Linked DNA regions of Homo sapiens: region 2 is linked to region 1. Evidence: fine-mapped expression QTL. A gene starts in region 1. The other region holds a variant in brackets. All regions are shown on one strand. Distances are between the middles of the regions.

Region 1 (5,347 bases):
GCAGCTGAACCTACGGCTGCTGAAGAAACACAATTACAATATCCTGCAGGTTGTGACAGAACTTCTTCAGTTAAACAACAACGACTGGTACAGCCAACGCTATTGAGGAGTGACCTTGTATTAAATAACTGCCTGCTGCTCAGAGATGATCTTTATTCTGTCATTGGGGTATGGGATAGAAGCCCTTGCTTATTTTTAATCTGATGAATCTGTATAGAGCCCATCGTTGAGTTACCAAGACAATACCTGCTACAGTATTTTGGGGAGCAAACTAAAGACCAGAACTTAAATTTTCACTTTAGACATTGGATGAATAGTATGAAGACAGTTTTTCAGTTGATTTGGATAAAACTATTTTAGTGCATTGACAAGTGTAACTTCAACTTCATATAGAACCATTTTTCTTTCTGCTTTTATTGAAACTGAGTATTTTTCTTTGGCTAATGTGGATTTTTTATGGGGATATCTGTTAATTTTCAGGTTTTGAAAGACATTAACCTCGGAAGTTGTTTTTAAGAATTATTCTCATAATTCTTATTCTCATAATTTCTGTAATCCACCTCAAGCTTCATAGTTATTTGGCATTGAAATAACACCCAGAGCATGATAGAAATGTTGTTACTCTTCCTCTCTCAAGGAGAAAGTAATTTTCCTGCAATACTTAATAATTGGCACCGTTGCTTTCTAAAGACTCCATGGTGCATTCAAGAGTATCCAACTTCAAGGGAATCTCCGCATTTCAATGAAAGGAGGAAGAGTGTGCTGATAAACCTACCAGCACCTATTGAGCAATGTCTATTATAGTAATTTTGCATACATTTTTATTTAAGGGAAAAAATATAGGTATTGTGAAATATTTTGCTAATCTTATAGAAAAGGAAAAAATCCCGTTATTTAAAGGGAAAAGTAAATTTAACAGTTGCCTTTTTTCTTAATGTCAGGGCAGATCTTATTTTACAGTACAGTGGGGGAAATAGAAACATGTGAAAGGCAAAAGGCAGGCTCCTAAATTAATGTCAGTGAAGTTCAGGGTGGGCAAATGAGTGTGTGTGAGGTATAGGAAATGCTGATGACTTCTTTAATGCTTGAAGTCCGTTCACAGGTATCTAGCCCTAGAATGCCTAGAACAGGAAGAGGCAGCTGGTGTTCTGCAAAACTTGGACAGGGGCAAAGTTGCTGAAAAAGTTTTGGTTTAACCCGAAGATAAGTGGAAAAGAGCTTGTCCATGAACCCAGGTTCTCACTCTGTTTACAGAAGTGTGTTGAGTACAGTTGGTGAAGGAAGAGGTAACAAAAAATGCTAAATATTTTATCCATGAAAATGACTTCCAGAAAAGGAAGAATATGAACCCCAGACCGAAGGGGAAAAGATAGTTAATAGTATTATCTAACCTGGTTGGTATTTGTAATGAATGGTGATTTTAATTAGTCATTAGCCATAATGATGTTTATTTACAGTATAACTCCTGAATGCTACTTAAATAAACCAGGATTCAAACTGCAAGCCAGCCAGGCCGTTCATTATTTAAAACGTTTTAATCGGGGCTTCCGGGTAGAAGGTGGAGCGGCAGGGTGTAATTGGGTTGATGGGTGGGACCTGTCTTGACCATCGGAGTTTTATAATCGAGGGCCAGGAGGGCCCGGGTTGCTCTCCTGGTTATGTATGTACTTGTACATAACCACCTAAAGAATGGTGAAATAAATGTTCTTGGAAATTCCTACCCGGACTGGCTAGTCCTTGCGGAAGCAGCGTCCGGGCCCTCGGGTAACGTTTGAAGAGCTGGCAGCGTCTCAGGCTGCTGCGTGGCGAAGGGGCGGACCGGGGGACGGGGGGGTGGGCCCTTAGGGGCTGGGGCGGGACTTCCCTGGGCACTGAGTCAAAGCTTGAGGGGAGTGTTCGCTCCCGCATTTTCGATTCCACTCTCTTCCGTTTCTGTCGCTGCAGTCGTCCGCGGGTAAGGCCCTCCCTAGACCCTTTATACCTACTTTACCTTTCGGAGGTCAAGACACCTCCTGTTGCCGCCTCCTCGCCCAACACACAGGCGCCCCCCGCACGGGTACCAAGCTTGACTAACGGCCTCTAGGGGTGTGTGGTGGGACTTGAAATCCTCCCTTAATGAAGTCACACCTTCTCCGTCCGCTTCCACCCGGTCGGCCCATGGCAGAGCCCCCATGTAGCCCAGGAATCGGCTTGGCCCTTCGGGGAGGTCAGCGTCCTTACTATCCCCACTCTCCAGTGCGGCACATTCGTTCCCCTAGGACTCCGGCCGGTTGCCGGCCCCAGGCGGTGCTTCTCCCCACCACCGCCCAGCTCAGCTCAGCCCAGCCCAGCCCACTCTGCCCTTAGAGGCCCTTCTCCCCAAAGACGCACTCCAGAAGTCTCGCCCTCGTGCGGCTGAGGAGCCTGGGATCCCAGACCTGAACAAGGTGAGCATCCCTATATTTTAGCCCAGAAAGATCTGTGTGGCTCACTTGCCGGCCTCGTTCTGTCACACAGAGTCCAGATTTAGCCTTGAGTTTTCCTAGTGAAAGACAGACCCTGGTATCACTATGACCCTCCTCAGGCTTTCTTACCCCGCCTCAGAAAGCAGTGAGGTGTCTGCTTTCTCCCAGGGCTTCTTTAGATAGGGGTCTTAACCACACCTGTGACCAGTCTGGCCTCCTCTCTCCTTGATTCAAAGAATCTCTTTTCTGCCCTATCCAACTTCCTTCCCTTAAACTGAATGACAGCTCAGCAACTTTTCCAGAGAAAAATTAAATGCTCTGACAATCACTTATGGAAGTTCCTTAAAGTGAAGTAACTTCTGCTTTTCTTTTGTTTTCCCTTTTGTAGGCAGATTGGTCTCTTTTAAAATAATGAAAGGAGTCGAAATGCATTGAGACTTCTGAGAGTCCCATGTGACCACCCAGTTTTTCACATCCTATCTTCCTTAGGCTTGAGCTTGCTTAAACTGTGGTGAAGCTCCTTGCCAGTCTTGAGAACTTCAAACCAAAATTACATCTGGCGTCAGTGCTAACAAGCTTAGCACTGAACTTTGGTCTTTTCTCATTAGTGAAACCCCCGCCCCTGAAGAATGGGTAAGACGTTTTCCCAGCTGGGCTCTTGGCGGGAGGATGAGAACAAGTCAATCCTGTCCTCCAAACCAGCCATTGGCAGCAAGGCTGTCAACTACTCCAGCACCGGTAGCAGCAAGTCTTTTTGTTCCTGTGTGCCTTGTGAAGGAACTGCTGATGCCAGCTTCGTGACTTGTCCCACCTGCCAGGGCAGTGGCAAGATTCCCCAAGGTGAGTGGCCCAAGGCTCTGGAAATAGCCTGGAATCCAGGGAAAGTTCTTAGCCTGTTGGCCTGGGGCAGCCCCTCTGAGTCTCCTTGGATGGGGTTAGATCTGCTCCCAGCTCTTGACCTCCCAGTCTCAGGCTGGCCAGGGAGATACTTAACTATCCTTGGGTTCCCTGCAAAAACCTGCCCTCCTTCCCTGGTTGTATTCTCCAGCCCCTTGTGGGAAAGAAGGATTCTAGCCACTGTGCTTCTGAGCAACACTGTGTGTCCTAGGATTCATTCAGTTCAGGAAGTTACAAATGAACTTTCCAAAGATGCTGGGCATCTCTGATTTGCTGGTGACTTTCAGAGATTCTTCATACCTATTAGTGGAAATCTCACTTCCATTCTAGAGATGGCAAAGCTGAGCTGCCAACTTTGGTAGCAGAGTCCAGTGCTTCCAGTCCTGCTCTGGGGCAGATGTGGCATGTTTCTAACATTGCTCTATGGTGTGGGTGGAGGCGTGCTTCTGGGAAGCTGGCACAGTAAATATTTGTCACAGTTGCATCTTGGCCCTCCCTCTCACCTTCTCTCTCTCTAGAGCTGGAGAAGCAGTTGGTGGCTCTCATTCCCTATGGGGACCAGAGGCTGAAGCCCAAGCACACGTAAGCCCCCCTTCCTCCCCTAGCTTCACAAGCCATTGCCCCTGGGGGCTGCTCCCTTTGTCTCCCCTGTTTTGATCTCCCTTAATTTCTTCCTATTAGTTCTTCCATAGAAAGCCTGAGCCTCAGAGGTACCAGCTCCTTACGTCCAAGGATTTTTTCCTGATTTAGAAGCTCCTGGACCGGGTGTGGTGGCTCATGCCTGTAATCCCAGCACTTTGGGAGGCCAAGGCAGGCAGATTACTTGAGCTCAGGAGTTCAAGACCAGCCTGGGCAACATGGTGAAACCCCATCTCTATCAAAAAAAAAAAAAAAAAGAAAAAAAAAAAGAAAAGAAAGAAAGAAAGAAAAAAGCAGCAGCTGTGGGCACAGCAGATGTCACTTGAGGCCACCTGGTGGGCTTCCTTAAGCATCACTGCTTCCAGAAAGCATGGCCCCCTCTCCAAGACAGGAAGGATCTGGTAGCTCTGCAAGTCCTCCCAGGAAGGAGGGAACAAGCATGTGGCCCTGGCTGCAATTGATTTGAAAATGTTATTTTTCTTAAGCACCTCCCTTGCTGAGGCAGTTCAGATTTGCTTGTTTTTCTTCTAGTAGAGATGAAAAACCTATTGTCCGCTGTTCTGGGATACTTCAGAACCTCAGGCAGACCTGGGGCCTACTGTGTTTGTGATCTGAGTCCATCTGACATGGAGCTCCCTCAACCTCCTCCCAAGGTCCTGGTGTCAACCTGGGAGTCACCACCAAGCCGAACCCTCTCCGCCACCCCACTATACCAGAATTAGAAATCAGGCTGGGCGTGGTGGTTTATGCCTGTAATCCCAGCACTTTGGGGAGGCCAAGACAGGCGGATCACCTGAGGTTAGGAGTTCAAGACCAGCCTGGCCAACATGGCGAAACCCTGTCTCTACTAAAAATAGAAAAATTATCTGGGCGTGGTGGCAGACACCAGTAATCCTAGCTACTTGGGAGGCTGAGGCAGGAGAATTGTTTGAACCCAGGAGGTGGAGGCTTCAGTGAGCCAAGATCATGCCACTGCACTCCAGCCTGAGCAACAGAGCGAGGCCTCATCTGAAAAAAAAAAAAAAACAAAAAAAAACCCTGTAATCCCAGCACTTTGGGAGGCCAAGGCGGGCAGATCACGAGGTCAGGAGTTTGAGACCAGCCTGACCAACATGGCAAAACCGCCTCTACTAAAAATACAAAAATTAGCCGGGCATAGTGGCAGGCACCTGTAATCCCAGCTACTCAGGAGGCTGAGGCAGGAGAATGGCGTGAACCCGGGAGGTGGAGGTTGCAGTGAGCCGAGATCGTGCCACTGCACTCCAGCTTGGGCGACACAGCAAGACTCCATCTCAAAAAAAAGAAAAAAAAAAGAAATTAGCAGTGCACATCATAAGATACTAACAAAGTACTATCTCTTTAATGCA
Region 2 (5,372 bases), 230 kb before region 1:
AACACACAAAAAATTAAAAACTGAAAAAAAAAAAAAGACTGTGTGCAGTGGCTCATGACTGTAATCCCAACACTTGGGGAGGCGAAGGCTGGAGGAGGATCACTTGAGCCCAGGAGTTGGAGGCTGCAGAGAGCTATGATCATACCGCTGCACTCCAGCCTGAGTAACAGAGCAAGACCCTGTCTCAAAAAAAAAAGGCAAAAGAAACATTGTACCACCTTAAAAAAAAAAAAAAAAAGTAGTGCTCAATCCACCTACAAGTTGTAATCTTGTATTTATACATTGAATACATTGACAGGTGAACAGGTAGGACCAGAGTAGGGAATATCATTGAACTGAATGATTTACTTCTTACCACTTACCTTTTTTTTTCTTTTTCCTTTTTTTTTTTTTTTTTTTTGAGACAGAGTCTCACTCTGTTGCCAGGCTAGAGTGCACTGGCATGATCAGGACTCACTGCAGCCTTGACTCCCAGGCTCAGTAGATCCTCCTACCTCAGCCTCTCGAGTAACTGGGACCACAGGCGAGCATCACCATGCTCAGCTAGTTTTTGTATTTGTAGAGATGAGGTTTCACCATATTGCCCAGGCTGGTCTTGAACTCCTGGGCTCAAGCAAGCCACCCACCTTGGCCACCCAAAGTGCTGGATTACAGGCATGAACCACTGTACCCCGCCAATTTTTTTTTTTTTCTTGAGACAGAGTCTCACTCTGTCGCCCAGGCTGGAATGCAGTGGCACCATCTTGGCTCACAGCAACCTCCGCCTCCTGGGTTCAAGCGATTCTCCTGCCTCAGCTTCCCAAGTAGCTGGGACTACAGGTGCCCGTCACCACGCCTGGCTAATTTTTGTATTTTTAGTAGAGATGGGGTTTTGCCATGTCGGCCAGGCTGGTCTCGAACTCCTGGCCTCGAACGCCTGACCTCATAATCTGTCCGACTCGGCCTCCCAAAGTGCTGGGATTATAGGTGTGAGCCACCGTGCCCGGCCCTAAATTTTTATTTTCCACTCTGTTGCCCAGGCTGGTGTGCAGCAGCATGATCACAACTCACTGCATCCTCAACCTCCTGGGCTCAATCCATCCTCCCAGCTCAGCCTCCCAAGTAGCTGGGACCACAGGCGCACACTACCATGACTAGCTAATTAAAAAATATATTTTTTCTGTAGAGGTGGGGCTCTCCCTATGTTGCTCAGCTGGTCTCTGACTCCTGGGCTCAAGCCACCCTCCCACCTTAGCCTCCCTAAGTGCTGGGATTACAGGCATGAGCCACTGCACCTGGCCCCCAGTTTTTTTTTTTTTTTTTTGAGACAGAGTCTGGCCCTGTCACCCAGGCTGGAGTGCAGTAGCATGATCTCAGCTCACTGCAACCTCCACCTCCTAGGTTCAAGCTGTTCTGCTGCCTCAGCCTCCCTAGTAGCTGGGACTGCAGGCATGTGCCACTATCCCCGGCTAAATTTTGTATTTTGAGTAGAGACAGGGTTTTGCCATGTTGGCCAGGCTGGTCTCGAACTCCTGACCTCAAGTGATCCACCCACCTCAACCCCAAATATTTTAAACCAATATTTTCTCTTATCTTACTTCATACTGGAAATGATTTATGTTATTTCCTGCTTTGCACCAGAGCTCATTGTTCTCTCTTGTTTGCCCACACTCCAGCAAATAGCATATCGTAGCTACCATGGCAAGTGACAGAGTTCAACAGACTTGGTCATGAAAATGGAATCAAAATTTATGGCTGATTTCTTTCTTCCCTGACATAAAGTTGGGTAACAGTGAGAACAAAAACAAAAGACTTTTCCACAGTTCTTTCTCCTTAGGCTGGTTAGACAACTTTCTCCACTCAGAGTTCATTATTTGGAATTTGTCATTCTTTTCTTTTTCTTTTTCTTTCTTTCTTTTTTTTTTTTTTTTTTTTTTTGGACACAGAGTCTTGCTGTGACACCCAGGCTGGAGTGCAATGCTGCGGTCTTGGCTCACTCCAACCTCCGCCTCCTGGGTTCAAGCCATTCTCCTGCCTCAGCCTCCCAAGTAGCTAGGATTACAGGCACGTGCCACCACACTGGGCTAGTTTTTGTAGAGACGGGGTTCCACCATGTTGGCCAGGCTGGTCTCGAACTCCTGACC[T/C]CAGGTGATCTGCCTGCTTTGGCCTCCCAAAGTGCTGGGATTACAGGCATGAGCCACTGCGTTCGGCCATACTTTCCTTAATTCAGTTCAGTAACATACAACAAATGCATGTTGAGAACTTATCTTGTGCCAGACACTGTGCCTGGCATTTGTGGTTCAAAGTCAAAACCTTTGTCCTTAAGGAGTTCATAGACTAGAAGAGACAGAATCCTAAACAAATAATGTGATATGAGCTAGACTAGAAGTGTGAACAACCTCTAGAGGAAATGTTTAGTTATGCCTGGGGAAATCAGGAAGCCTCTTAAAGGAGAACTAGGCCTTCACCAAATGGGGAAGTGGGATAGGGTTCTAACAGTATGCAACTGCGCTCTGAAAGGATTACAGAGGGACTGCCCTGAGAAAAGGCTTGCTTTCATGTTGAGCAAAGTTAAAGCAAGAGGATTGCATTTTAAATACTTAAACAAAAAGTTAATTTGTTGTTTTCTTTTTTTTTTTTTTTTCATTTCTTCTCTCTCATTACTTACTTCTTCAGGGCTTGGTAAGTACCGTTTTAAGGTTAAATGTAATACGCTGTAGACTTCTAGTTTAAGACGCAGCCTTGCCCCTACAAATGATTTGCTGGTTTTGCTTTTTGTTTTTGAGACTCAAGAAAGACAAGGAAGAACCAGTGTTTGAGAATACGTTGACAAGACTTTACCACCCTGAAGCATTTTTATTAGTTGAAATGCAGAAACTACTGGTGGCCAACAGTTGAAAAAGGAGTCACTAGTCAGCAAAACTTACAGATACTTTTTTTTAAAAACGTTGTTACCTTCACATCCCCATTATGTGGCTTTTGGTTTTTTTTCACTGGCCTAGGCACTTGCCTTTTACTCTTTTGTTTTTGGTTTTGGTTTTTTGAGACAGAGTCTTGCCCTATTGCCCAGGCTGGAGTGCAGTGGTGAAAACAAAGCTCAATGCAGCCTCAACCTCCTAGACTCAAGCCATCATCTTGTCCCAGCCTCTTGTGTGACTGGGACCACCATGCCACCACGCCTGGCTAATTTTTTTTTTCTTTGAGACAGGGTCTTGTGAAGCCTTGACCTCTTGTGCTTAAGCAATCCTCCCGCCTCGGCCACTCAAGTAGCTGGGACTACAGGCATGCACCACCATGCCCAGCTAATTTTTAAAAATTTTTTTGTGGAGATGAAGTCTCACTGTGTTGCCCAGGGTGGTCTCGAACTCCTGGGCTCAAGTGATTCTTTTGCCTTGGCCTCCCAGAGTGCTGCAGTTACAGGCGTGAGACACCACTCCTGGTGCGTTTGATTCTTTTGATTTTTCAGAAGTGGTCTATCGTACATCAAAGGGACTTTGGTGAACCTTAGGAAAGCTGGTTATGAGTTTTTTTCTTTTTTTTTGAGACGGAGTCTCGCTCTGTCACCAAGGCTGGAGTGCAGTGGCGCGATCTCTGCTCACTGCAAGCTCCGCCTCCCGGGTTCACGCCATCCTCCTGCTTCAGCCTCCCAAGTAGCTGGGACTACAGGCGCCCGCCACCACACCCGGCTAATTTTTTTTTTGTATTTTTAGTAGAGACGGGGTTTTACTGTGTTAGCCAGGATGGTCAATCTCCTGACCTCGTGATCCACCCGCCTCGGCCTCCCAAAGTGCTGGGATTACAGGCGTGAGCTACCGGGCCCGGCCAGCTGGTTATGAGTTTTAAAGCCTCTCTCCACACCCTTACCCCAGATTCTTTTGCAAAATTTGGCTGCACAGAGTAATCAGGAGTTGTGTTATGGTAACTGGCTGTGGAGAATGGCATGTCTTAATTCCTGGGAGGCTATCTTGGCTGAGATAGATTGTCTCTACCCTAACTAGACCTTTGGGGGAAAAAAGGCAGTCTTAACAAAAAGCCTCATTGTATTAATATCCTATTTCCAATGAGGGACAGATAGTTTCTTAAAGAAAACACCCATTTGACAAATTGCCTAGGATGAAATAATTATTCTTACTTTTGAATCTATCGTATGAATTGTGTATTTCATTTGGATTATTGGAAACATCTTATATTTTATTGGTCATTACTGGCTCGAGCAGATTCTTAATGTGCCCTGAGTTTCCCTTTGCCTGCATAATAGACCCAATTATTTTCTTGCCTTAGAGTGAGCAGGAAAAGCAAGAGCGTCTGGAAACCCAAAGGGAGAAGCAGAAAGAACTGATACTGCAGCTCAAGACCCAGCTAGATGACCTGGAAACGTTTGCCTATCAAGAGGGCAGTTATGACTCGCTGCCACAGTCCGTGGTGTTGGAAAGACAGCGGGTGAGCAGACCCCAGAGGAACCTCCACCACTGCCCGAGGTTAACTTGTCCCTTCCAGCATTCACAGGGCATCCTCTCTCAGCTCAGTTCTCCTTTGGCCTTACTGAGAATCCCTCTGCTGGCCCAAATCAAAGGGAAATTTTACTGCTATGAGGAACCTTTCTTTGCTCACACATGGAAAACACAGATTCCAAAGTTTTGTAATACGATAATTGAGCTATTTCTTTTTGGTGATTGTAATTAATAATAGAAATAAGAATATAACAATAATTTCTTCATTTGATCACTTAAAAAATTCTACTTGGGCCCATCATACAATGTAATCTAGCTTTTTTGTTTTGTTTTATTTTGTTTTTGAGGTGGAGTTTTGCTCTTGTTGCCCAGGCTGGAGTGCAATGGCACAATCTCAGCTCAACACAGCCTCTGCCTCCTGGGTTCAAGCAATTCTCCTGCCTCAGCCTCCCAAGTAACTGGGATTATAGGCAGGCGCCACCATGCTGGGCTAATTTTGTATTTTCAGGAGAGATGGGGTTTCTCCATGTTGGTCAGGCTGGTCTCGAACTCCCAACCTCAGGTGATCTGCCCACCTTGGCCTCCCAAAGTGCTGGGATTACAGGCGTGAGCCACCGCACCTGGCCGTAATCTAGCTTTTTCCTACTACTCACTACCTTTTGATAAACATGCCAGGAATCCAGACTGACTTTAATACTGTATTTATTTAGGTAAGACCTGGGTAGACAGGTAAATCTCTTGGTAGAGATACAGTTACAACCTCCCCTGCATGTTTCTCTACCCCTGTGCTGTGGCTGTTTTTCTGGCTGGGCTGGAGTTTACGATATCAGATTTTTTTTTTTTTTGAGACAAAGTCTCAGTTTGTCACCCAGGCTGGAGTGCAGTGGCATGATCTTGGCTCACTGCAACCTCCGCCTCCAGGGTTCAAGCAATTCTCCTGCC

Which allele goes with the higher level. Alleles are on the strand shown, and positions count from the first base shown. SD is a standard deviation of normalised expression in the study named.
For the expression in transverse colon of the gene that starts at base 1,907 in region 1, T is the low allele of the variant in region 2 and C is the other (small effect, 0.28 SD a copy in GTEx).

The links. PIP is the estimated chance that this variant, and not a neighbour inherited with it, causes the effect.
Region 2: its variant is the best candidate, but not a certain one, in a credible set for the expression of TMEM106A in transverse colon (GTEx, PIP 0.71).

The regions. Positions count from the first base shown.
Region 1 is chr17:43,209,969-43,215,315 of GRCh38, forward strand. TMEM106A (transmembrane protein 106A) reads left to right here and starts at 1,907. Exons shown (of 9, transcript NM_145041.4): 1 at 1,907-1,954; 2 at 2,259-2,426; 3 at 3,053-3,284; 4 at 3,860-3,923. The coding sequence starts at 3,074. NBR1 (NBR1 autophagy cargo receptor) reads left to right here. Exons shown (of 21, transcript NM_005899.5): 21 at 1-1,720. The coding sequence ends at 106.
Region 2 is chr17:42,982,996-42,988,367 of GRCh38, forward strand. RUNDC1 (RUN domain containing 1) reads left to right here. Exons shown (of 5, transcript NM_173079.5): 2 at 4,261-4,419. Among named protein-coding and RNA genes, the nearest start is that of RUNDC1, 5.1 kb to the left of the region's middle. The variant T/C (reference allele first, on the strand shown) is at 2,124.